Homo sapiens: one gene and its partners. The protein of the gene in region 7 purifies or fractionates together with the protein of the main gene of each other region. This does not show direct contact. Each region holds a gene or a part of one and is shown on either strand. Other genes may lie near its edges.

What was found.
Region 1: the proteins of VIP (region 7) and PPP2R2A purify together in Homo sapiens (co-immunoprecipitation; one large-scale study listed by IntAct). This does not show direct contact.
Region 2: the proteins of VIP (region 7) and TNRC6C purify together in Homo sapiens (co-immunoprecipitation; one large-scale study listed by IntAct). This does not show direct contact.
Region 3: the proteins of VIP (region 7) and PPP2R2D purify together in Homo sapiens (affinity purification with mass spectrometry; 2 studies listed by BioGRID and IntAct, with this or other methods). This does not show direct contact.
Region 4: the proteins of VIP (region 7) and LRP2 purify together in Homo sapiens (affinity purification with mass spectrometry; 2 studies listed by BioGRID and IntAct, with this or other methods). This does not show direct contact.
Region 5: the proteins of VIP (region 7) and UBR3 purify together in Homo sapiens (affinity purification with mass spectrometry; one large-scale study listed by BioGRID and IntAct). This does not show direct contact.
Region 6: the proteins of VIP (region 7) and NISCH purify together in Homo sapiens (co-immunoprecipitation; one large-scale study listed by IntAct). This does not show direct contact.

Annotation. Positions count from the first base shown.
Region 1 is NC_000008.11:26,354,008-26,357,507, forward strand, and holds part of PPP2R2A (serine/threonine-protein phosphatase 2A 55 kDa regulatory subunit B alpha isoform), read left to right. Parts: intron 1-460; coding exon 461-626; intron 627-3,500. UniProt on the Homo sapiens protein: Substrate-recognition subunit of protein phosphatase 2A (PP2A) that plays a key role in cell cycle by controlling mitosis entry and exit. Involved in chromosome clustering during late mitosis by mediating dephosphorylation of MKI67.
Region 2 is NC_000017.11:78,087,703-78,091,202, reverse strand, and holds part of TNRC6C (trinucleotide repeat-containing gene 6C protein), read right to left. Parts: intron 1-3,500. UniProt on the Homo sapiens protein: Plays a role in RNA-mediated gene silencing by micro-RNAs (miRNAs). Required for miRNA-dependent translational repression of complementary mRNAs by argonaute family proteins.
Region 3 is NC_000010.11:131,907,508-131,911,007, forward strand, and holds part of PPP2R2D (serine/threonine-protein phosphatase 2A 55 kDa regulatory subunit B delta isoform), read left to right. Parts: intron 1-3,500. UniProt on the Homo sapiens protein: Substrate-recognition subunit of protein phosphatase 2A (PP2A) that plays a key role in cell cycle by controlling mitosis entry and exit. Involved in chromosome clustering during late mitosis by mediating dephosphorylation of MKI67.
Region 4 is NC_000002.12:169,209,035-169,212,534, forward strand, and holds part of LRP2 (low-density lipoprotein receptor-related protein 2 precursor), read right to left. Parts: intron 3,174-3,500; coding exon 2,934-3,173; intron 608-2,933; coding exon 419-607; intron 1-418. UniProt on the Homo sapiens protein: Multiligand endocytic receptor. Acts together with CUBN to mediate endocytosis of high-density lipoproteins. Mediates receptor-mediated uptake of polybasic drugs such as aprotinin, aminoglycosides and polymyxin B.
Region 5 is NC_000002.12:169,833,954-169,837,453, forward strand, and holds part of UBR3 (E3 ubiquitin-protein ligase UBR3), read left to right. Parts: intron 1-3,500. UniProt on the Homo sapiens protein: E3 ubiquitin-protein ligase which is a component of the N-end rule pathway. Does not bind to proteins bearing specific N-terminal residues that are destabilizing according to the N-end rule, leading to their ubiquitination and subsequent degradation.
Region 6 is NC_000003.12:52,462,104-52,465,603, forward strand, and holds part of NISCH (nischarin), read left to right. Parts: intron 1-3,500. UniProt on the Homo sapiens protein: Acts either as the functional imidazoline-1 receptor (I1R) candidate or as a membrane-associated mediator of the I1R signaling.
Region 7 is NC_000006.12:152,753,797-152,757,028, forward strand, and holds part of VIP (VIP peptides isoform 1 preproprotein), read left to right. Parts: intron 1-369; coding exon 370-492; intron 493-1,079; exon of another isoform or gene 1,080-1,472; coding exon 1,473-1,577; exon of another isoform or gene 1,578-2,337; coding exon 2,338-2,469; exon of another isoform or gene 2,470-3,232. UniProt on the Homo sapiens protein: PHM-27 and PHV-42 are two bioactive forms from proteolysis of the same precursor protein, that cause vasodilation. PHM-27 is a potent agonist of the calcitonin receptor CALCR, with similar efficacy as calcitonin.

The DNA of each region.
Region 1 (3,500 bases), on a different chromosome or scaffold from region 7:
GGACAATACATCATATTAAATAACAGATCGGGGAGTTGACCCTAAAGTGGGCATAGGAAGAAGGTGTGCCTCACCTAGCTCTTTCTGGGCAAGACTTTATCATTATTTTTAGATGAACTTCCTTATTATGGGTGCTCAGTTTTTTTTCATCAGTTTTTTTCATAGACTATACCATCAAATACATAAGAGTAAATTAGCAATCAAATTGATCCATATTTAACGTCATTATTTCCCTAATGAATTGAGCTTATTTATTCAGCTTTATTTAGCCTTTTCCCCCGTTAAGTTTTCTCATTTAATCCTTGAAGGCCTTTAGAAATATAAAAAACAGAATGTAATTGTATAAAGACACAACTAATGGGGTATTGAGAATGTGCAGGGTCCTTTGGAATTGATTACATATTTGATTATTTTGAAATATTTTTCAACAATGGTCCATATATTTTTGTTTTCATTTTAGAACAAAATCCAGTCTCATAGCAGAGGAGAATATAATGTTTACAGCACCTTCCAGAGCCATGAACCAGAGTTTGACTACTTGAAAAGTTTAGAAATAGAAGAAAAGATCAACAAAATTAGGTGGTTACCCCAGAAAAATGCTGCTCAGTTTTTATTGTCTACCAATGGTAAGTATACATATTTTCTTTCCATGTGCCCACTGTGTGTACCTGTTGCACATATCCTGTAGCCTAGGAGAGGAATCATTTAACAGAGATACTTGTAAAAAGGACTTTTGTTTTTCTATACAGAATGTAAACTCTACTTTTTTACTGTCACTTGCAGTTTTTAGATTCTCTGAAAGATTCTCTGATAGCAATTTTTTGTTTACTACACCTCCAATTTGTAGTGAAAAGAATGGGCTGCTATACCATTGGATTTAGGTCAGGTAATATTTCTGTCATTTCTCAGTCTCGTAATCTTGGGCAGGTTACTAACACTGAATTGAATTTTCCTCAGCAGCAAACTAGAGATAGCAATTTTTTATTATAGTATTATTATGAATATTAAATAACTTCACATACATCATGAGTGCAAGTGCTCAATAAATGTTAATTTATTCCTCCTTTTTAAGTGTTTGTAAACTACACAGAGTATCTCAAACTGCAGATACAAAATACTCAAAGGATGGTCTCCATTCCAGGATACGCTATAGGAGAGCACTTTCTTACTTGATCACCATTAGCATATTGCCTTCTTCCCAGCAATCCACATGGCTGGAAGGAGATTCCTCTCCTACTGTTTACTTGCCAAGGGAACATTTTTTGTTGTTTTTTGAGACAATGTCTGTCGCCCAGGCTGAAGTGCATTGGTGTAATCACAGCTCACTGCAGCCTCGACCTCCCTACCTCAGTCTCCTGAGTAGCTGGGACCACAGGTGAGTGCCACCACACCCGGCTAATTTTTTAAAAACATTTTTGTAGAGACTGGGTCTCCCTATGTTGCTCAGGCTGGTCTTGAATTCCTGGGCTCAAGCAGTCTGCCCCGCTCAGTCTCCCAAAGTGCTGGGATTACACGTGTGAGCCACTATGCCTGGCCCAGGAAAAGTTGAGTGAGGATTAAAAGTTAGTAATGACAGGCCGGGCGTGGTGGCTCACGCCTGTAATCCCAGCACTTTAGGAGGCTGAGGCGGGTGGATCACGAGGTCAGGAGATTGAGACCATCCTGGCTAACATGGTGAAACCGTGTCTCTACTAAAAATACAAAAAAATTATCCGGGTGTGGTGGCGGGTGCCTGTAGTTCCAGCTACTGGGGCGGGGGTGCTGAGGCAGGAGAATGGGGTGAACCTGGGAGGCAGAGCTTGCAGTGAGCCGAGATCGCGCCATTGCACTCCAGCCTGGGCAACAGAGCGAGACTCGTCTCAAAAAAAAAAAAAAAAAGTTAGTAATGACTCTACCAGAATTTGAAATCCTTTATGATGAGTTGGGTGCTTTCTCTTTGTTCTTATGAAAAACTTTTTCCTGTGAATTGTTTGGACTTTGTTGGGGTCTTGAGTCTAAAGGGAATCATTAGAGTGACTGAGGAGATACTTTAGTTTCTGGGTAGCCGTAGTCTATAAAAATTTGTGATTAAAACTTTTTTGAGGTTGGTGCTAGGGTGAGGGGAACCTCTTATTTTCTCATCCCCTCACTATTAATTTAAAAAGCAAATTCTAACACCTAGACCATAAACATTTGCAGAATATATACTTAAATGACTTCAGGATGAAATGGGGGAAGAAATTCAGCACTTCCTCCATCTAATTGATGCCCCTCGTCCACAGTATTAGTTCTTAGAAATGCTGTTCACAAATGCCTGATGGCCATCAGCGTTGGCCGCCTCCTGGGTGCCCGTTTTTCTGATCATGAAAGCTTTCCCCAGCCAGTCCATTGAGATGCGTACCCTCTGCCTTCTCTGTTTTCACAATAGACTGCATTCCCCTCTCTTGTCCTTATTAGAAGAAAAATAAAGAGAAGTAACTATTTAAAGCCTGTAAATCACAGCACTATGGGTGGAGGGAACAGTTTATTCCTGTCATATGCTAGCTTCTAGTCTTGGGTCAGTTTTAATTTATATGGTAAACTAAGTTATTTCAAATAGCTTCAAATATTTTAGACACTGTTCTTTGGCATCAGATGATACATAATTAAACCATTTATATAATTTCTACTTTTAGAAGTAAATGTTCCTAGGGAAATGTGTTGTTAACATTTTATATATTGGAATATTTTTATGTCAGTTTATTTCTTATAGGGCTACATCAGCTTTCTTATAAAGAGAACTTTTTAAATGTAGGCTGAGTTCAAGAGAATAGTATAGTGAAGCCCTGCATGCTCATCATCCACTTCTGACACTCCTCAGTTCATGGCTAATTTGTGTCTCGGATCCTTCCCCTTCCCCTCCTCCTCAGTGTTATTTCGAAGCAAATCCGATTACAACGTCTATGGATTAAATCTTGTTTAAAGACATTAGAGAATGCATTGTAGATTTTTGTCTTTTGTTTCTTAATACTAAGTAAAATACAGCTAACTGGGGGCTGCATTTTTTAATGCTAAAATAAGTGCTTAATAATAGAGTCCAATGTGGAAGGATAAAGCAGATTATGAGAATCATATGAACTGTTGTGTCTGGGTAGATGGGAAAAGGATGGGAGGAGTAGGACTTGAACTATATCTGAAAAACTATTTGGAAAGAAGGAGACTTAGAGAAAAATGTCAACATCTGTTGATTCTGAGTGATATCTTTTATATTATTTTGTGTATTTTTCTCTGTGAGTTTTTTCTGTGAGCATAGTAACACCCCCCCCCCCCAATATAATGGGTCTATATAAAAACTATATCTGTGGGAGAATGATGGAAAATAGTACCAAACTTTCCAGGTTTGATTAACCAAAATTAATCTTATAAAAATATTTGCATTGGCTTTCCATGATCATTATATGAACTGGGTTTCCCAGATCATTTTTACTTAAAGGACGTCATAGTCACCTTATAACTTGAGTTAATTTAATGTTCCTTCAAGC
Region 2 (3,500 bases), on a different chromosome or scaffold from region 7:
GCAAAATATTTTAACTATAACTTTTAGTGCTGGTGAAAAAATACTACTTATCGTCATAACAACATGTATTTCTAGGAATATTATTCCTAAATTAAGGTGAAAATGTGAATAGTCTTTGATTAAGTAAGGCCCACAATTCTCTTCATTTTACTTGTTTCAGTGCTGAATAAACATGGTCCTGAGGCTTCTCAGAGTCCACAGGAAAATAGAAAAAGTCCAAACTATTAGGAAAATCTTTCTTTGTTTTGGGATATCTTACGGAAACTCATCAGGTCAAAAACACTTTTCCAGAACTCTAAAGTACCACCTATGAAACAGACTGATAGGATAATTCAGTTCTACCTTTAGTGAGTTTCCTTTACAAAAGTCTGCTCTGAAAGAGTCTGTGAATTAAGTATCAAACTACTTTTAAGGAACTGAACTATTTGACAGCGGGGGTGCTGCCATCTGCCCCCAGCTGGGATGGTGAGCTGAGGCTTCTGGGCTCATTCCTTATAGCTAAAAGCAGGTACCTGGTTATTTGTCCAGGACCTGCACTAAGCTAGGTTAATAAAGAAAGATGATGAGGAGGACAATGAAAAGAAGGTTGAAGTAAAGAGTTTCTGATGAGGACACTAGTTTGGAGCAGGACAGACTGCTTGTTTGGAAGGGAATAACCAGCACAAGCGCCCCCCTCCCCTTGTATTTCCAGCTGCAGTTCCCCTTACCACATACACATACCCCATAGGTCCTTACCGTAAGTACTACGCCACACGGTACGTAAGCACAGTGAGCCTCTACTACTTAGCCAGGTGCTGAACATTCTGGTTCTTACCTTTATTTCAGAGGCTGCAAATTCAAATGCCCATAGGAGCCAGGTGGGCCATGCACATGAAGAAGTGGGCTTCATGGGGACTGTGGCAAACCAGAGAGTGTCTGTCCTGTCTAAATAAACAGGTGCTACTGGGGCCAACCACCTATTGCTACCTGGAACATAGACCCACTATAGCCATTTTTAAGAGAAGCCAGAAGCCACTTTCCCCAATTTTTGAATGTTGGCATTAACACACACCTATGCACATGCACACACACACTTCGCAGACCTAACAAAACGCCTTTGCAAGCCCATCAGTGCCACAGGGCTGCCTACTTGCAATCTCTGCTGTGTGGGTTCTTTTCGTTTCAGCTTGTACAGATCTAGCCAGGTAAGGTGGCAACAATGTCAGGGCTTCAACCTGGCCTTCAGAATGCTCCAAATTTCACAATTTGGCGCCAACCCATCTCTCCCAACTTTCCCCTCTGGGAAAGTCAGCTAGACTGGCCTGGCCCTTGCAAAATGGGCCCCTGAAACAAGCCAGGCCTCTTTCTTCTGTGCTACGTGAGGCTTCCCCTTTATTTGGAAAGGCTTCCTCTTTATTTACTGTAATCCTATCCAATCATTTGAGGTTCAAGCTTAATCCTACTCTCTGATTTTTCTTTCACCACTCAAAGTGAAAGTGAACTTTTCCTTCTCTAGAGCCCTGTAAGAATCACATGACACTGGTATCAAGGTTATTTTTTCCCATTTATATGCCTGCTCTTCCTATCTAGATGGCGAACTCCAGGTGGCAAAAGACTGAGAATAACAACGACAGGCTGAACATGAGGGAAGGAAGGTAGCTAGGAGCCCCCACTACTGACCATGGGCTGCTGGTTTCTTTACATGAATTGATGAGTGTCTAACAGGCTCTTCAACATAGGTGCTGCTGCAGAGAAATGCTGAGAGCCAACAAGATAGGCAATTTTACAACCAAAGTTTCCTAGACTTTATTAGTTATTTGCTTTTAATACATTTATAACTTTACTGTGAATATTATAAAATATTATCCAAATTATTTTTCAACTAATTTCAAAGATTCACTGCATGAATTCTTTAACTTGTACTAAGAGAAAAAATCCTTAAGAGTAAAGATAAGTGGTCGGGCACGGTGGCTCACGCCTGTAATCCCAACACTTTGGGAGGCTTAGGTGAGCGGATCACTTGAGGTCAGGAGTTTGAGACCAGCCTGGCCAACATGGTGAAACCCAGTCTCTACTAAAAATACAAAAATTAGCCAGGCGTGGTGATGCATGCCTGTAATCCCATCAATTTGGGAGGCTGAGGCAGGAGAATTGCTTGAATCCAGAAGGTGGAGGTTGCAGTGAGCCGAGACTGCGCCATCGCACTCCAGCCTGGGCAACAGAGCAAGACTCTATCTCAAAAAAAAAAAAAAAAAAAAAAAAAAGTAACGATAAGTGTACTTTATCCTCCAAATATAGGTTAAGAAGACAGGTGAATAATAGAAAGCTGAAGCTAATGCATTTTAGGATAATAGGTGGGATGAAATTTGTTTCTAAAACAGAAGCACTTACATAAGTAGCTGACATTTTACAAAGTGTTTGCTATGTGCTAGGCACTATTTAAGAACTTTACATATTAGGCCAGGTGTGATGGCTCATGCCTGTAATCACAGCACTTTGGGAAGCTGAGACCAGCAGGATCACTTAAGGCCAGGAGTTTGAGGCTGCAATGAGCTATGATCACGCCACTGCACTCCAGCCAAAAAAAAAAAGAGAGAGAAAAAAAAAAGAAAAAAGAGAACTTTACATATTAGCTCATTTAATCTTTAAAACAAACCTAGGAGTTAAGTATTTCCACATTACAGATGAAGAAATTAAGGCATGGCTCAGTATGGTGTCTCAGGCCTGTAATCCTAACACTTAGGGAGGATCACTTGAGGCCAGGAGTTTTGAGACTTGCCTGGGCAACATAGAAAGACCCTGTCTCTACCAAAAAAAAAAGAAAGAAAAATAAAGAAATTGAAGCAAACAGCAGCTAGGCAAGTTGCCCAAGTTAGTAGTGAGCCTCTTGGTGGTGAGTTGGGACTCAAACCTAGGGAGTCTAATTCCTAAGTCAGGTCTTACCTACTTCGACACAAAGGGCTCTAATGGATGAGACAATAATTAAGGAACGAGATCATCTAGTCTAGTATTTATCAATCTCATATTAAAGATATACCACATTTATAATATGTCAAGTAAAAAGGATTCATATGATTACAATATACCGCTCTTTTCAGAGACATTGAATAGAATTAGATAAATGAATATTATCTGCTGGCAGCAAATTCACTACCACTCAACTGGCCTTTGCCCCTTTACAGATGTATTTTCCAAGTTACCGATAACCCTTTGTCCTGTATCTACAGACTCTAATAGCAATCAACAGACAAGCCTAAAGTGCTTTCACTAACTTCTGAATTCTTACGGCAAATTAGTCCATGCAGAATCAATTTACTAATTTATACCCTCTGGTGTCTTCAGGTATGTGAGCTGTGTCTCTCCTGACTGGCCTGACCTCGAGGCCTGGCACCATGTCTTCTACTGACCTGCGGGTTTCAAGTGCTGAGTGTGCTTCTACAAGTTAGATTTCAACATATATATGTTGATTTGGTCGATTATACAAATCACATTTCATACAAAATGAGTTGTATCAACAACCA
Region 3 (3,500 bases), on a different chromosome or scaffold from region 7:
AGGCGGGCGGATCACGAGGTCAGGAGATCGAGACCATCCTGGCTAACAGGGTGAAACCCCGTCTCTACTAAAAAAAATACAAAAAATCAGCTGGGTGTGGTCGCGGGCACCTGTAGTCCCAGCTACTGGGGAGGCTGAGGCAGGAGAATGGCATGAACCCAGGAGGCGGAGCTTGCAGTGAGCGGAGATCACGCCACTGCACCTCCAGCCTGGGCAGCAGAGCGAGACTCCATATCAAAAAAAAAAAAAAAAGATTCACAGACTCATCATGCTTAGTACAGCCACATCTTAACGCTCAGGAGGCTGGCCTGGTCATCGTTACATCGTGAAGTTAAGTTTACAAGATATGTGGTGGTATTGAATCATACCTGGTGATTTTCCACGTTCCCTGATTTTAAGCAGTCTGCTGTTCTGATGGGAAGTTCCAGGTTGGGTTTGTGTCTGCTGTTTTCAACTCTGAGGGCCCCTTTCTGAGCTTCAGCTCGCTTATCTAGAAGTTAAATCAGAAGCTTTTTGTTAAGATCAAACAATGTGCAGTGCTGTTGCAACTTGAAAAGTGCTTTTCAAGTATTAGATACAACTGTTAATTCTCTTGTATTTTAAAGTATTGGGGCTTGGTTTTAGCTATATTTAAACACAAAAATAGCAGTTTCTTGTTTTTCCTTACCTGCTTCATGTCCATCTACCCAGATCCCTTCCACTGGGCCTGGCCTCTTAATGTTTACGTTATTATTCAGTGATTATTCCCATCCCTTGATCTTTGCTCCTGTTTCTTTCTTTGCCTAGAGTATTTATTTTGCTTCCTGTCCATTCCCTAAGCCCTGCTGATCCTTCTAAATCCACCTCCAATCCCACTTGGCGAGTCCCTGCTCCAGCTCCCCTCAGCGTTCAGTGTCGTCTTAGACTCCAGATTTCCCTTTCACACTGTGTTCCATGTTGTTTAGCAATTGGCTGTGTCCTGCTTGTGGTTCCCTTATTTTATCACATGTATTATTAGGCTCGTCTCTCCCACTGGATGTCAGTCAGCATATGGAATGTCATGATATTACCAGGTGATGGAGAGGAATTGTGCACGTGGAATTTGGTACACATCCCTTTTTCACCCTCTTCAGGCTTTGTGTTAACTTGGGAAGTTACTTACTCTTTTCTCATCTGTTAAACGGGTACTATTACTTGTGACCATTACAGGGTTGCTGTGAAGATTCCAGAAAATGTATGGAAAGCTCTGACAAACAAACACGTTAACTGGTAACTGTTCAGAGGCTGTTGTCTTAAGAGACCCTCTTGCATAGGAAAATAGCTGACTCTGTCACTTCAGGGAGCCAGTTTAAGAAAAATGAAGGGTAATGCAGGGGCCAGCTTTCAGCTTGGCACATCTGAAAAGTTCACGACAGCATACCAAAGGGCTGCTAGTGCTGGCTGTTGGAAATAGAAATGCAGTTCTTGCCTTCAGGAAACGCTGTTTGGACACAGACAAGCAGGTGGGTCCTTGCACCATGGCTGGACCAGAGCACACTGAGGCAATGTGAAGAAGTACCCAGTACACAGACTTGGGTAGGGAGTGGAGGGGAGGACATCAGGGTATAAGAAGAGGGAGGAAGGGAAGGGGAGGAGAATGTTCCAGGTGGAGAGTGCTTGGTGTGGAGGTTGGACAGAGCATGGTATGTTCTGAGAGGTCAGTGCTTGGCATGGTCCTCTGGCAGAAAAGGGAGTGGCTGTGATGAGCAGGAGGCTGGCTGGGGCCACAGGATGATGAATAAAGGACTTGAATCGTGTGCTCAGGACTCTGAGTGATTGTGAGCTTTTCAGATCCTAAGCGGAGGAGCGACATCAGCTTTGTTTTTAACAAGGTCACTCTGCCCTTTGGAGAGTGGATGGTGGTGGGTAAGAATGGAGATAGGAAGTTACTGCAATAATAAAGATTGGGAAAATGGGCTTACTCTAGTTTCGGGGTGGCCAAGCTTTTTTGTAAAGGGCCAAATGGTAAGTATCTTAGACTTTCAGGCCATCCTGTCCCTGTTGCAACGACTGAATTCAACTCTGCCTTTAGCAGGAAGACAGCCATAGACCCTGCAGAGATGGATGGGCGTGGCTCTGTGCCCTGCTTCCACAGGAGCATGCCTACAGAAAACAGGCAGCTGGCCAGATGTCGCCCAGGTTGTGGTTTGCTAAACCCTGACCTAGAGTTGGTTTGCAAAGTCTTTTGGTGCTGGAATAATTTTATACTCTTAATAGTTATATTGAGGATCCAGAGAGCCTTTGTTTGTGCTGGTTATCGCTGTTGATGTTTTCTATATTTGAAATTAAAACAGAACAACTTACAATATTTATTTTACTTTAAAAGAATCTACTACATGTTAACATAACCTTTTTAATGAGAAACAACTTTTCAAAAACAAAAAGATTAAGCAAGAAGAACAGTGTTGTTTTACACTTTTGCACATCCTTTTAAAATATGAGGTTTAAGAGGTGACGGCTGGATTCTCAGACCTGCTTCTGCATTCCGTGTGTTCCAGTTGCTTTATTGAAATGTGTAAGGAAAATGTGGCGTCACACTTCCATGTGGGCAGAAGAGGGGTCATCCTGGAGGCTCTTAGCGATGCACCATAACTCGCCAGGTGGCAGCGTGTTTGAGTGTGCCGGCCTTTCGGAGTCAGTGACGTTTCTGTACTCTCTTCCGTCAGAACCCTGAGGTCTGTCTTGTGCTCAGAGTGGGTCTTTTGCTCATGGACATGATTTGGTAACATCACACGGGGGTTGTTTGGAAATATTGTTACATGGAGTTGTTTTTTTTTCTAAATGTTAACACATTCCATTATGTAAACTTGAAGAAAATCCTATTTTTTAATGTCATCACTGATCTCATCAGAAGAAAAAGTGAGAAACTGTCAAATTAGCAGTAGTAGAGAAAAGTTTTCCAAAATTCTAATTTTCTCTTGAAAGCTTGGATTTTATCATTGGTAACAAATACTGTCAGTTACTTTCTGTGAAGTGAGGGACGCAGTGTGTTCATTTTCAAGTCAATTTCTGCCAGATACCAAATTCTTAATAACCAAAGTTGGTCAGTTGTTCTTTCAAATAAAAATGGCATTCCATGAAAAAAAGGGCTAGTTCAGCTTGTGTGATACTGTGGAATATGTATTTGGTCTTCCCTAGTACACAACTCCTAAAATCCTCGGGCTCGTCAGTGATGTCTTCGTAATGCGTTGGCTAAGGGCCGGCAACCCCTGGGTAGCTTCAGAACAGGGGCTGGTCACCAGAAAGACCTAGGCAGGATTAGAAGGTTGGGACTTTCAGCCCCGATCCCCAACCTCGGGGAGTGGTGAGGGGTGGGGGAGCTGAAGGTTAAGCTGATCACCAGTGGCCAAACAGTCTTGCCTATGTATGGACTGGGTTTGAAGATAGCTTCCAGATGTTTCTGGAGGGGGGCCCACCCAGAGAGGACACGGGAGCTCTGTGTCTCAGCCCCCGTCCCTCGCCCTGTGCATCACCTCAGTGTC
Region 4 (3,500 bases), on a different chromosome or scaffold from region 7:
AGAATTTGGCAACTAAAATTGCTCAGCTTCAAAGCAAATGAATGCTGTTCCATAGTTTATATTTTTATATCTCTTTCTCTTGAAAATTTAGAAAATTTCTAATGCAGAAATCAGGTGCAAATCTAAGTGTAAAAAAAACAAATCCACATAATTTAATATTTTAGCCACTTTTGTCTCCAGATTATGTTAATAACAGAAGAAAATGATAAGGATTAATTTGTTATAAATCTGTAAACTGAAACACCGTATCATTTATCAAATAGACACGTAGCTTAATCTAGATTCAATGTATCTTAAATGGTCTTAATAATTGTCTAGAAAAACAAACCTGTAGCACATGGAGTTAGGCTAAACTTTCTAGCATAAAATAAGATGACAGAGATGCAAACATATTAAAATCACCATATAGCTTACATACCTGCTACCCAATCCACTGCAATACCCCGGACTCCATTTTCTCCTATTCCATGTGTCACAATGTTCATCAGAGAAGATCCATCTGGTTTAATTCTACGGATCGCATTATCAGATGCCACTGAGCTGCTAAAATCACACCAATAAATAAAGCCAGAGGACACATCCACATCCACATGCAGTGCGTTTCGTCCTGGAAGTTAAGAAAAGATCATTAAAAAATGCTGTCACTGAAATTAGAACTTTTAAATGTCTGCCCTTCCTCTCAAACCCTCATTCCCAACCCCCTGCTCTGAGCATCTCCCCATTACAAAATGAAACCCTTTTTTCCCAGTTGCAGTGAGCAGACCCACATCTTGGTTTCTACTCTTTCCCACAATAAGGAGCTCTGGCTCCCGGGAGAAATGTTGATTATAGGTTTAGGCAGGGAAGGTACGAAGTGAGTGTGAAACATCTTATTGTACCAAGAAACAAGGCATACACAGAAATATACAGGTCGCCACTTGAAGAGGTTCTCCCTGGCCAAAATGGATCCACTAAAACATCAAAAGAAGGATTACAGTAATTGACTGTAACACACTGAATTTAAAAAATAAAAATTTGAGCCCATAATAATAATAAATTATTTAAAAAGTAAACCGGGGAGACACGAAGAGCTTTCCTTTATAGAAGAATATTATCTAACAAATGTAAAGGGAATGCTAAAATAAGAAAATCACCATTTTGCAATCCTCGATTAAATAATCATTTCAAACAAGGATCATCCATGGCTGCCAAAACCAATGGGTAAAAGGTGCTTGGGAGCCAAGACATTCACAGGGCCTAAGTGTGATTGCATAGATTCCACCAAAATTAAGAAGGAAAAAAAATACAGCTTTAAAAAGCAGCAGTGTAGCAGTGACCACCTTAACCAAGTGATCAAACTCAAATGCCACTAAGAGCAGGGCAAGCTGACATTATGTTCTTCCTAATAAGATTCTGTATCAACTAACACAGCATAACCTATAAAGTATTATTGCTAAATGTATTTAACCTTGATCTAATCAAGCAATTAGACCTAACTTCCATTTCATGAGAACTGCAGGGTAAAAAATGAAAGACAGACTAAATATTCAGACAAATCCTCAGTGTGGGATTCTCAAAGACAACAGGTCTGCCTCTTTAAAACATCAATGTCATAGCAAAAAGCTAGAGGCAACTACTCCAAACTGGAAGAAACTAATGAGATATTCCCAGTGCAGTGCATGAATCTTGATTAGATCTTGGATGGAACAAAACAGCTATATATAAAATATTGTGAGGCCAACTGGAGAAATATGATTATGAATATTTCATAATGCCCTTTGAAACTGTATGCTAACATATGTAGGGGTAAAGTGGCATGGTATTAAAATTTATTTTTAAAAGGTTCATAAAAAATGAATGTGAATGCATATGCATGTACACACACACACATACAAATTGAGAGCTCAAATGTGAAGAAATGTTAACAACTGTTAAATCTTGGTAAAGGGTATAAGGATATTTCCTAAATCTTTCAACGTTTCTGTGTTTGAACATTTTTTTAATGAAAAGCTGGGAGAAAAAAACTATTGAATTTGTCATATCTGTACAAGATGATAACTTAGATCCATAACTTTTTAGATATGGAAAAACAAAGATGAGTCATGGGTCCACGTGAACATGACCATCAGGCAGGAGGACGTGTGGGACTGGAAGCTCTCTGATTCCCTTCTCCAGGTGCATTTCTGTATTTTCTGACCATCTCTACAACCCCTTCATTGACTTCATCCTTTTTTCCTTCCTTTCTACCCTCTATTTCTCTCTTTAGCCTGTGACATTCTCCTAGCGATGTTAGAAAACTCTTAGTTCCTCTTGTGCTAAGGTATACCTAAAAACCTTGGCTCATCTAGGAAGCAAGTGATCGTTTCATACATTCACAGTATGTAAGCACAAAGTGCTGCAAAAATATGATTACTAAAGAGGGACTGACACTGTGAACTCTTTTGCTTCAATTCACCAAATATATATTAATAAATCATATTTGTGGACTATTTCATTACCATATTAAATAGTAGTATACCTTCTACCATAAATCTCCATTAATAATCAGAAATAGGGCACAGTTCTTTGGAACACCAACTCTGTAGTACTTCTTGCAAACCCATCCTACATTCTATATTGCTCTGGGCCTGTGGTTCTTAGCGTGATCCATGGGCCAGCACCGTCAGCATGCCCTGGGAGCTTATTAGGAGTGCAGATTCTCTGGCCCTACCCTAGACTACAAAATCAGAAAAATCTGGGGACGAGGTCTGGAGCTGTGTTGGCGTGAGCCCTCCAGGTGATTCTGAGACACACTAAAGTTTGAAAAACACTTTAGGCTGTGCCAGTTGATTTAAAGGGAAAGGAAAGCTTCATTATGCACTGAATCCACACATGAAGAAATGTTTTCATGGCACCAGGGATTTCAACCTGGTGCCAGATGAAGTCAAATCTTACTTATATTGGAGTTGGCATACCTTGGCCTGCCACCGGCACCATGGTTTCTGAATGATCTGACAATTCCAAGCTAAAGCCTCTGATTGCAGACAGCATTGAAACAACAATGAAAGAGTTATATGGAGAGCAGGACCGATTATCAGGATTGAGTTTAAATCCAGTGGCACAGGCGCAGGAAAACAATCCTCCTGGTACAGGCAGGCAAATCTGCTGACAGGCATTCATGTTGTTGCTACAGCCATTTGAGGATTCGGCGGCATCTAAATGAAAACAAAATCCATTTGTAACTTTTGATCCTAGCTACTCGCCACCCCATCTCAAATTTCTTTAATTGGGTCACCAAATAATTTATTCTAAAAATTAATAACCAACATATAGTAGCTGAGTTAGCAATCTAAAAACAACATCGGAGAGACTAGAGCTTATACAATAACACCTAAAGGTATGAAACCAGTAACCCAACTATTGTATAATAGTTAGAGAATGGGGCTTCACTTGTTTTCTTCTACAAATCATGCGAGGATTAGGGAGGTCAGTATATAAATCTGCTCATAATTTGCCTATGAACTGGCACTTAAAATAATATG
Region 5 (3,500 bases), on a different chromosome or scaffold from region 7:
CTTTTTGTATTTTTTGTAGAGATGGTATTTCACCATGTTGGCCAGGCTGGTCTTGAACTCCTGGCTTCAAGCAGTCTACCTGCCTCAGCCTCCCAAAGAGCTGGGATTATAGGCGTGAGCCACAGTGTGGTGCCTGGCCTGTGTTGTGGGAGGTTTTTAGGTTTTCTGATCTGTGGTAGCCAGAAATTGAACCACGTGAATGTCTGGTTGAATAGTGTTACTCTCTTCAGTAGCTTGCTTTTTTCCCCTTAACATATTTATGGATACTATCTCAAAAGTAGAACTGCTTCATTTTTAAAGTTAAATAGTATTTCATTGTATTTCCATGTTTTTGTAATGTACTATGATTTTTGCGGTCAGTCCCTACTGATAGACATTTAAATTGTTTCCAGACTTGGGCTGTTGTAAACATTGTTGCAGTCAGTATTCTTGTATACACTTGTTCATATGTGTGTGAGCTTATGTATGAGGATACATTCCTAGAAGTTATATCTTGGTTGAAGGAAATTTGCAAATTCAACTTTGATAGAACCCTCCAAAGAAATTAATTTACATTCCTGCCAACAATGTATGAAACAATTTGTTTCCCCATATTCTGGCAGTATATATGGTGGTATCAGTGTTTCTGATCTTTGCTGCTCTCATAAGTGAAAAGTTATATCCCATTTCATCTGTTATCTCCCTGTCCCACTGCTTTTTCGTCCCAGCCAGGACTATTTTGAAGCAAATATCAGATACCTTATAATTTAATTTAAAAATATTTGAGTATGCATCTCAGTAAAGAGATGTGAACTCTAAAACATAACTCAAATGTCCATCAGCAGATGAATGGGTAAGCAATATGTGGAATATACGTACAATGGAATATTTAACCTTAAAAAGTAATAAAATTCTGACACATTAGAATGTTACAATGTAGATAAACCTTGAAGACCTTATGCCAAATGAAATAGGCCCAGCACAAAAGAACAAATGCTTGTATGCTTCGGTCTATATGAAGTGCCCGGAATAGTCAAATTCATACAGACAGAAAGTAGAATAGTGATTATCAGAGGCCAAGGGAAGGGGAGATTGGGGAGTTATTTTTTTAACAGGTACAGAGTTTCAGTTTGGGAAGATGAAAAAGTCCTTGAGATCGATGGTTGTGATGGTTGCAAAACAATGTGAATGTACTTAATGCCACTAAAACTGTACACTTAAGATGTTTTAAATGGTAAATTTTATGTTATTTATATTTTACCACAATTAAAAAATAATGTCAGGTATGGTGGCTCGCACCTGTAGTCCCAGCTACTCCCGAGGCTGAGTTGGGAGTATTGCTTGAGGCTGGGAGTAAGAGGCTGCAGTGGATTATGATCACACCTGGGAATAGTCACTGCACTCCAGCCTCAGCAACATGAAGTGACCTCATCTCTTGAAAAGAAAGCAAAAAACAAACAACTCCCCCAAAACCACAATACCAATACTACACCTAAAATATTCATATTTTGTTTGTTTGTTTGTTTTGATATGGAGTCTCACTCTGTTGCCAGGCTGGAGTGCAGTTGCATGATCTCGGCTCACTGCAACCTCTGCCTCCTGAGTTCAAGCGGTTCTCCTGTCTCAGCCTCCCTAGTAGCAGGGACTACAGGTGCATGCCACCATGCCCAGCTAATTTTTGTATTTTTAGTAGAGGTGGGGTTTCACCATATTGGTCAGGCTGGTCTGGAACTCCTGACCTCAGGCAATCCACCTGCCTTGGCCTCCCAAAGTGCTGGGATTACAGGCGTGAGCCACCGTGCGTGGCCTAATTTTTAAATCATTATAAAACTCAGTTAAAACTATTTTCAATTATGAAACAATTTGAATTTACAGAAAAGTACAAAAGTAGTATAACAGATACCTTTGTACTTACCATTGAGATGAATAGATATTAACCTTTTGCCATGTTTGCTCTAGAGTTGCTTTTAGTCAAAAAACCAAAGAAAGGTCAACCCACCTTTCCCTTTCTCTTTTCCTCTCCAGACGTTAACCATTTTCCTGAAATTCCTGTGTGCACTGTCTCTCTCTCTCTCTCTCTCTCTCTCTCTCTCTCTCTCTCTCTCTCTCTCTATATATATATATATATATATATATTTTTTTTTTTTTTTTTTTTTTTTTTGAGATGGAAACTCGCTCTGTCCCCATCAGACTCAGGCTGGAGTGCAATGGTGCGATCTCGGCTCACTGCAACCTCCGCCTCCTGAGTTCAAGCAATTCTCCTGCCTCAGCCGCCTGAGTAGCTGGGATTACAGGCGGCCGCCACCATGCCTAGCTAATTTTCATATTTTTAGTAGAGATGGGGGTTTCACCATATTGGCCAGGCTGGTCTCGAACTCCTGACCTCCGGTGATCTTCCCGCCTCAGCCTCCCAGAGTGCTGGAATTACAGGCATGGGCTACCACGCCTGGCCCCACCAGGAATTTGAGGTCTTGTTTTTCTGCTTATTGAAACTTGGTGTTAATGAGAACACATGGACACCACGAAGGGAACAACACACACAGGGGCCTGTTGGGTCGGGGGCAGGGAGAGGGAGAGCATCAGAAAAAATAGCTAATGCATGCTGGGCTTCATACCTAGTTGATGAGTTGATAGGTGCAGCAAACCACCACAGCAACCATTTACCTATGTAACCTGTACATCCTGCACATGTAATTCAGAACTTAAAAAAAAAAAAACCAAAAGACACTTGGTGTTATATATATAAATTTATAATATTTTACCAATCTGTTGGATACAAACATCTTTTTAAAATTTATATTTTCTTGACTAGTAAAGTTGAACATCTTTTCATATGTTTTGGGGCCATTTGGGCTTCTTTCTTGGTGAACTGCTGGTTCATATTATTTGCCTGTTTTGTTTTTCTGTTTTACTGAGTTTTAAGAATGCTGTACATACTCTAGATGCTGATCCTTTGTTGTATAAATACTTAATTTCATCTTCTAGTTTGTGTCTTGTCTTTTTACCTTGAAATATATAATTTTGTTGTAAACGATTTTAAATTAAAAATGTAGTTTTTCTTCTACAGTTTGTATTATTTGTATCTTGTTAAAGAAATCTTCTTCACCTTGGTTTAAAAAAATGCTTATATGTTTTCTACTGAAAGATTTAAGGTTTTTCATTGTACACTTAGGTCTTTTGTCCATCTGGAATTTATTTTTACATGTAGTATGAGATTGAGGTCTGTATTAGTCTGTTTTCGCACTGCTATAAAGAACTGCCTGAACGGGCCCGGAGGCTCACGCCTGTAATCCCAGCACTTTGGGAAGCCGAGGCAGGTGAATCACCTGAGGTCGGGAGTTCGAGACCAGCCTGACCAACATGGAGAAACCCCATCTCTACTAAAAATACAAAATTAGCCGGGTGTGGTGGCGTGTGGCTGTAATCCCAGCTTCTCGGGAGGCTGAGGCAAGAGAATTGCTTGAACCTGGGAGGCAGAGGTTGCGGTGAGCCGCGATCACGCCATTGCACTCCAGCCTGGG
Region 6 (3,500 bases), on a different chromosome or scaffold from region 7:
TTTGAGGCAGGCTCCGCTACTTGTAGAAGTTTTGACATATTTGGAATTAGTATTATCAAACAGGTCCCTAGGTTATATAAATCCTAGGATTTAAAAAAGCAATTGAACCCATCGTTGGATTAAACCCACAGTTGATCAGCCATAGCACTGTTGACATTTTGGACTGGATAATTTGTTTCTGTAAGGAGCTGTCCCATGCATTGTTTAGCAGCACCCTGGCTTCTACCCACTGGATGCCAGTAGCACTTCCCCACCCAGCTATGGCAACTAAAGATGTCTCCAGACATTGCCAAATGTCCCACTGGGGGGCAAAATTGCCCCCCACTTGAAAACCACTGGATTAGATCTTCATTTGGGGCCTAAAGATTTGTCAGCCTTTTCTCCAGGCTGGGAGCTCTCTGGGGAATGTTTCTCTTAACTTTTATACTGTCTGTATCCTCTCTGAAATTGTTCCACATGTGTTCTGCCTCTTGTGTTGCTGACATTGGATAGGGTGGACCCAGGGAACCCTATTTGGCTATGGTGTGAATTTTTTTATTTTTATTTTTTGAGACGGAGTTTCGTTCTTACTGGCCAGGCTGGAGTGCAGTGGTACGATCTCGGCTCACTGCAACCTCCACCTCCCAGGTTCAAGTGATTCTCCTGCCTCAGCCTCCCGAGTAGCTGGGATTACAGATGGCCCGCCACCACACCCAGCTAATTTTTTGTATTTTTAGTAGAGACGGGGTTTCACTATGTTGGTGAGGCTGGTCTCAAACGCTTGACCTCGTGATCCACCTGCCTCAGCCTCCCAAAGTGCTGGGATTACAGGCATGAGCCACCACGCCTGGCCATGGTGTGGATTTTTAAAAATTGAGATATAATTTACATACCATAAAATTAACTTTTTAATGTGTACAATTCAGTAGTTTTTAGTATATTCACAAAGTTGAGCGACCATCACCACTATCTAATTCCAGAACATTTCATCAGCCCAAAAAGGAACCTGTACCTGTTAGCAGGAGCTTCCCATCCCTCTGTCCCCCAGCCCCTGGCAGTCACTAATCTACTTTCTGTCCTTATGGATTTGCCTGTTCTGGACATTTCATATAAATAGAATCATACAGTGTGTGGCCTTTTGTGACTGGCTTCTTTCATTTAGCCTTATCTTTTCAAGGTCCGTTCATATTGTAGCATGAATCCATTGGTCCTTTTATGACGGAGTAATAGTGTATTATTTGGATATGCCACATTATGTTTATTTATTAGCAGTTGATGGATGTTAGGTTTGTTTCCATTTTTGGCCATTGCAAATGATGCTGCTATGAGCATTTGTATGTTAATTTTTGTGTGAACTTATGTTTTCATTTTTGTTGGATATATAGCCAAAAGTGGAACCTGAGTTATATGGTAACTATGTTTGACTTTTTGAGAAACTAACAAATTGTTCTCCACAGTTGTTGCACCATTTGACGTTTCCATCGGCAGTGTATAGGTTCTAATTTCCCCACATTCTTGCTTAACACTTCTTGTCCATTTTTTTTTAAATCTTAGTTGTTCTGGTGGGTGTGAAGTGGTATCTCATTGTGGTTTTAATTTACATTTCCCTAATGACTAATGTTATTGAACCTCTTTTTTTTTTTTTTTTTTTTTTTTTCTGAGACAGAGTCTCGCTCTGTCGCACAGGCTGGGGTGCAGGCATGTGATCCCGGCTCACTGCAACCTCTGTCTCCTGGGTTCAAGCGATTCTCGTGCCTCAGCCTCCCGAGTAGCTGGGACTACAGGCGTGCACCACCACGCCTGGCTAATTTTTGTATTTTTTTCATTAGAGACGGGGTTTCACCATGTCGGCCAGGATGGTCTCGAACTTCTGGCCTCAAGTGATTCGCCCACCTTGGCCTCCCAAAGTGCTGAGATTACAGGTGTGAGCCACCACACCTGGCCTGAGCCTCTTTTCATATGATATTTGGCCATTTGTGTATTTTCTTTGGAGAAAAGTATCCAATTCTTTGTCTTTTTAAAAATCAGATTGGGCCGGGCGCGGGTGGCTCATGCCTGTAATCCCAGCACTTTGGAAGGCTGAGGTGGGCGGATCACTTGAGGCCTGGAGTTCGAGACCAGCCTGGCCAACATGGAGAAACCCTGTCTCTACTAAAAATACAGAAATTAGCCGGGCATGGTGGTGTGTGCCTGTAATCTCAGCTCCTCGGGAGGCTGACGCACAAGAATGGCTTAAATCTGAGAGGCGAAGATTGCAATGAGTGAGACCACACCACTGCACTCCAGCCTGGGTGACAGAGTAAGACTGTCTAAAAAAACAAAAAAAACAAAAAAAACAGATTATCTTTGTTGTTGAGTTGTAAGAGTTCTTTATATATTCTGGCTACTAGACTTTTAGAAACATGCAAATACTTTTTCACATTCTGTGAGTTGTCTTTTTTTTTTTTTTTTTTTTTTTTTGAGACAGATTCTTGCTCTGTTGCCCAAGCTGGAGTATAGTGGCGTGATCTCGACTCACTGCAACCTCCACCCCTGGGGTTCAAGCGATTCTCGTGCCTCGGCCTCCCAAGTAGCTGGGACTACAGGCGTACGCAACCACGTCTGGCTGATTTTTGTATTTTTAGTAGAGATGGGGTTTTACCATGTTGGCCAGGCTGGTCTTGAACTCCTGACCTTAGGTGATACACCTGTCTCAGCCTCCCAAAGTGCCGGCATTACAGCCTGAGCCACCACATCCGGCCTGCCCAGCTAATTTTTCTATTTTTAGTAGAGACAGGGTTTTACTATGTTGGCCAGGCTGGTCTCGAACTCCTGACCTTAGGTGATCCACCTGCCTCAGCCTCCCAAATTGATGGGATAACAGGCGTAAGCCACCATGCCCGGCCATCTTTTCATTTTCTTGATGGTCTTCATTGAAGCACAAAAGATTTAGATTTTGATTAAGTTCAATTTATCAATTTCTTTGGTCACTTGTGTTTTGGTATCATACATGAGAAACCATTGCCCAATCCAAGGTCACAAAGATTTATAACAATATATTCCTGTATGGATTTTGTTTGTTTTTTGAGACAGGGTCTTGCTCTATTGCCTAGGCTGGAGTGCAGTGGCACCATCTCGGCTCACTGCAGCCTCAACCTCCCAGGCTCAAGCACTCCTCCCACCTCAACCCCCCAAGTAGCTGGGACTACAGGCATATGCCACCGTACTTGGCTAATTTTTGTACTTTTTGTGGAGATGGGGTTTCTCCATGTTGCCCAGGCTGGTCTCGAACTCCTGGGCTCAAGTGATCCACCCACCTCGGCCTCCCAAAGCGCTCGGTTTACAGGCGTGAGCCACCACACCCAGCCTGCAGTGTGGATTTTAATAACAAGGAAAGAAAGCACTACTTGTTTACCAGCCCACTTTAGGTGGGAGCGCAGGGGTTGCCGCCTGTATGAGTGAGGGGCACACTGTGGCACTGGCCTGTTGCTATGCTGCTCTTCAGATTGCTGTGTCCTGACCCTCCTGGACGCGTGGTGACA
Region 7 (3,232 bases):
TCTATTTTGCATAAAATATTTCTACATACGAAATTTGACTTTGCAAAGTGAAGATATTCTTGGCATAGTAAATTACACCAAAGAAGTATAGTTTGCTTAATGCTCTGATAAGATTGAATTAAGTAGCTCTTGTGTTTTGTATATTCAGCTTATAAAAGTCATATGGCATCTACTTTATAGGATAATAGGAATTTCCTATTTATACTCTCATTAACTATATGAGCCATTAAGTCAAATTATGCTATTCTCATATTATGACTGGGTAATACTTCCCAAGAGTCTAAGTATCTTATTTTAAATGGTTGCGGAACCATACACACTGTCTTCTGAAAAAAGAATGTATTATTCTCGTGTAACTTTCCCCATCAGGTTGGGTGACAGAATACCCTTTGAGGGAGCAAATGAACCTGATCAAGTTTCATTAAAAGAAGACATTGACATGTTGCAAAATGCATTAGCTGAAAATGACACACCCTATTATGATGTATCCAGGTGAGTTTATTTTTATAAAACTATCCAATGAGTTTTATTTTAGAAAATGTGTTTAAGAACTATAAACGTGCTTATTTTATCTCACCATGAAGCTATTCCGATAGCAAAACACTAGAGGTTTCTATGTGTCATGGCTTCATTCATCCTGATTTACTGCAGATCTTACAGCTGTACATAATTTTCATACTGAAAGGTTGTAACAAGCCAGGATGAACACACCATTCACTTCCATTCTGTTGCACATAATTCCAACATCACAGATTGTACCAATTCTGATAAAAGTACAGCATTTAGCATTCCAATGATGGAAGAGTTGCCAAGGAGTTTTGTCTCTATATAAAGAAAAGATACCTGATAGAGCTGTTCATTCATAGAGCTGTTTGTCTAGAGCATCATTTCAAGTACAGACCAAGTAGCTCTATAGTACTTGGTACAGACAAAGTATAAAAGGTGCTTCATTTGAAAGAGAAAAGGTGGGATGATAGGCCTTAATGCCTTCTCTATCTTAAGAGATTTTGTTTCCAAATATTTTGGAAAAAGAAAAAAAAAGGTGTACTGGGGTTTATGAACTTTCCAAAATCAGAATATTTTCCCATTGTGAATGTCTTTATTCAGTGGGGCAGACACAAAGCACCATGTACAAATAGCAGCTAATTTAAATAGATCATATTTTTACACCAATATTTCTTAGAAAGAAATAGTTATAAAGATTCAACCATGGAGGAATATTGAAATGTGCTCCTAGAAATGCCTGTTTCTTTAATTTTTCAGTGTCTTGGGCTAGAAATATAGGGTATATCTTGATATAAGTGACTAGAAGATCTCTTTTGTTAGGGTGTTAAGAAATCTCCTTTTGAACTTTAGTTTTAATGAGAAGCTTTCATAATAAGCCCATAATTTTTTTGTTATTTAATAAGCCATAATAATATTCTAGAAAGCCATTTACAAAATAATAGCTATTTTTTTCTTCCTTGTTTTAGAAATGCCAGGCATGCTGATGGAGTTTTCACCAGTGACTTCAGTAAACTCTTGGGTCAACTTTCTGCCAAAAAGTACCTTGAGTCTCTTATGGGAAAACGTGTTAGGTAAAGAGAATTTATTATTTTTATAAAATATGTTATCATTATTCAATCTGAATATTGTATTTTCACTCTTAACAAGTTATTTACTTTGTTTGAAATTGAAAACTCGTTGATAATGTTTAATTTAGTTAAATGAAATAACTTGTATTCTTCAATAACATCTATCAAGCCCATGGACTAAGACTTTTTCATAATATCATATTCATTGACTCCAGACACACATTTTTCTCAAGTAGCAATCATTTAGCAATCTGCAATCAAATTGAACAAGACTCAGTAAAACAATCAAAAAGAGATAGTACAGACTGAGGTAAATTTTAAGGTCAAACAGAATATTCTTTTTACTTCCTGCTCAAATTAAATGGAGAATTCCAAATGGCCAACAGTCAAATATTTAGATGACGTTGCTCAGGGTAGCATAGCTTCTAAAGAAGTAATTATGTTTTTTTTAAAAAAAAAAAAAATTTCTCCCAATGGCAGAGCACAACTTCAGCTATTCCCAAATTTTTATTTTTGGATGAATTATTTGCTCAGCTGTACAGAATGTGTCATAAAACAGTCCCAGGCCATGCCAAAATATGGCAGATGATTCCTTGCTTTCCTTCATCCTTAGGTTTAGTTGTATTTTTCTTTTAGTCTTTTTATGATAGAAAATTAGTTGGGTGGGAATTGCTTTTTATGTGGCTCCAAGAAACCTGGAACATGTGTGTATTTATCATTTCTTGTGAAAACTCTTTGATTTCCTTTTCCTCATGTTCCTTAGCAGTAACATCTCAGAAGACCCTGTACCAGTCAAACGTCACTCAGATGCAGTCTTCACTGACAACTATACCCGCCTTAGAAAACAAATGGCTGTAAAGAAATATTTGAACTCAATTCTGAATGGAAAGAGGAGGTAAAGAAAAAGAGAACTTGCTAAAATGAGGAATCATGACTGACTTTCAAAATAGAAGCTGCACATGGAGACCTCTCTATCTCACTTATCTAGCTATACTACGTGAAGCAGTGATTTTCAACCTTGGCTGACATTAGACTACCCCGCAGAACTTTAAAAATACAGATGTCTGGGCCTTCTCCCAAACCAATTGCCAGGAAATCGGTGTCTTCGGTGGTGTGGCCCTAGACATACATTTCTTTTAAGAGTTCCCCAGTTGACTTTACTATGCTGCCAGTGTTAAAAATGATGACTATACAGACATCTAGTCTGAATCTAAGAGCAAGTTTCATCAAAAGTGATGATTTTTAAAACATGTAAAGCATAGTCAATTGCAATTTGGTAACACATGGAACTCACTTCGTGTGCATATTCACTACTGTTATTTAATCAAATTAAACCATTAGGTATTTTGTATATTTAGATTCTGTAAAATCTATATCTCTCTATGGTGTGTAAATATTGGACACAATACATAAACAGTGTAGTGTTCTGTCTTTTTATTCCAATTGTTTTTGTTTAAGTGATGAGTATTAAGGATAATTCTGTTTGGGTGTGATCAGACAAGATGACCTCTTTGCCCACTAGATGATAATTCTGTGAGAATAATTTTAGAAACTCTAAGATTGATGAATAATTCATAGGTACTAACAAACCTCAAAGATAATTGTTTAGCCTCCCCATACACTTTCAGAGCACAGAGAACAGCACATTCATTATGTCA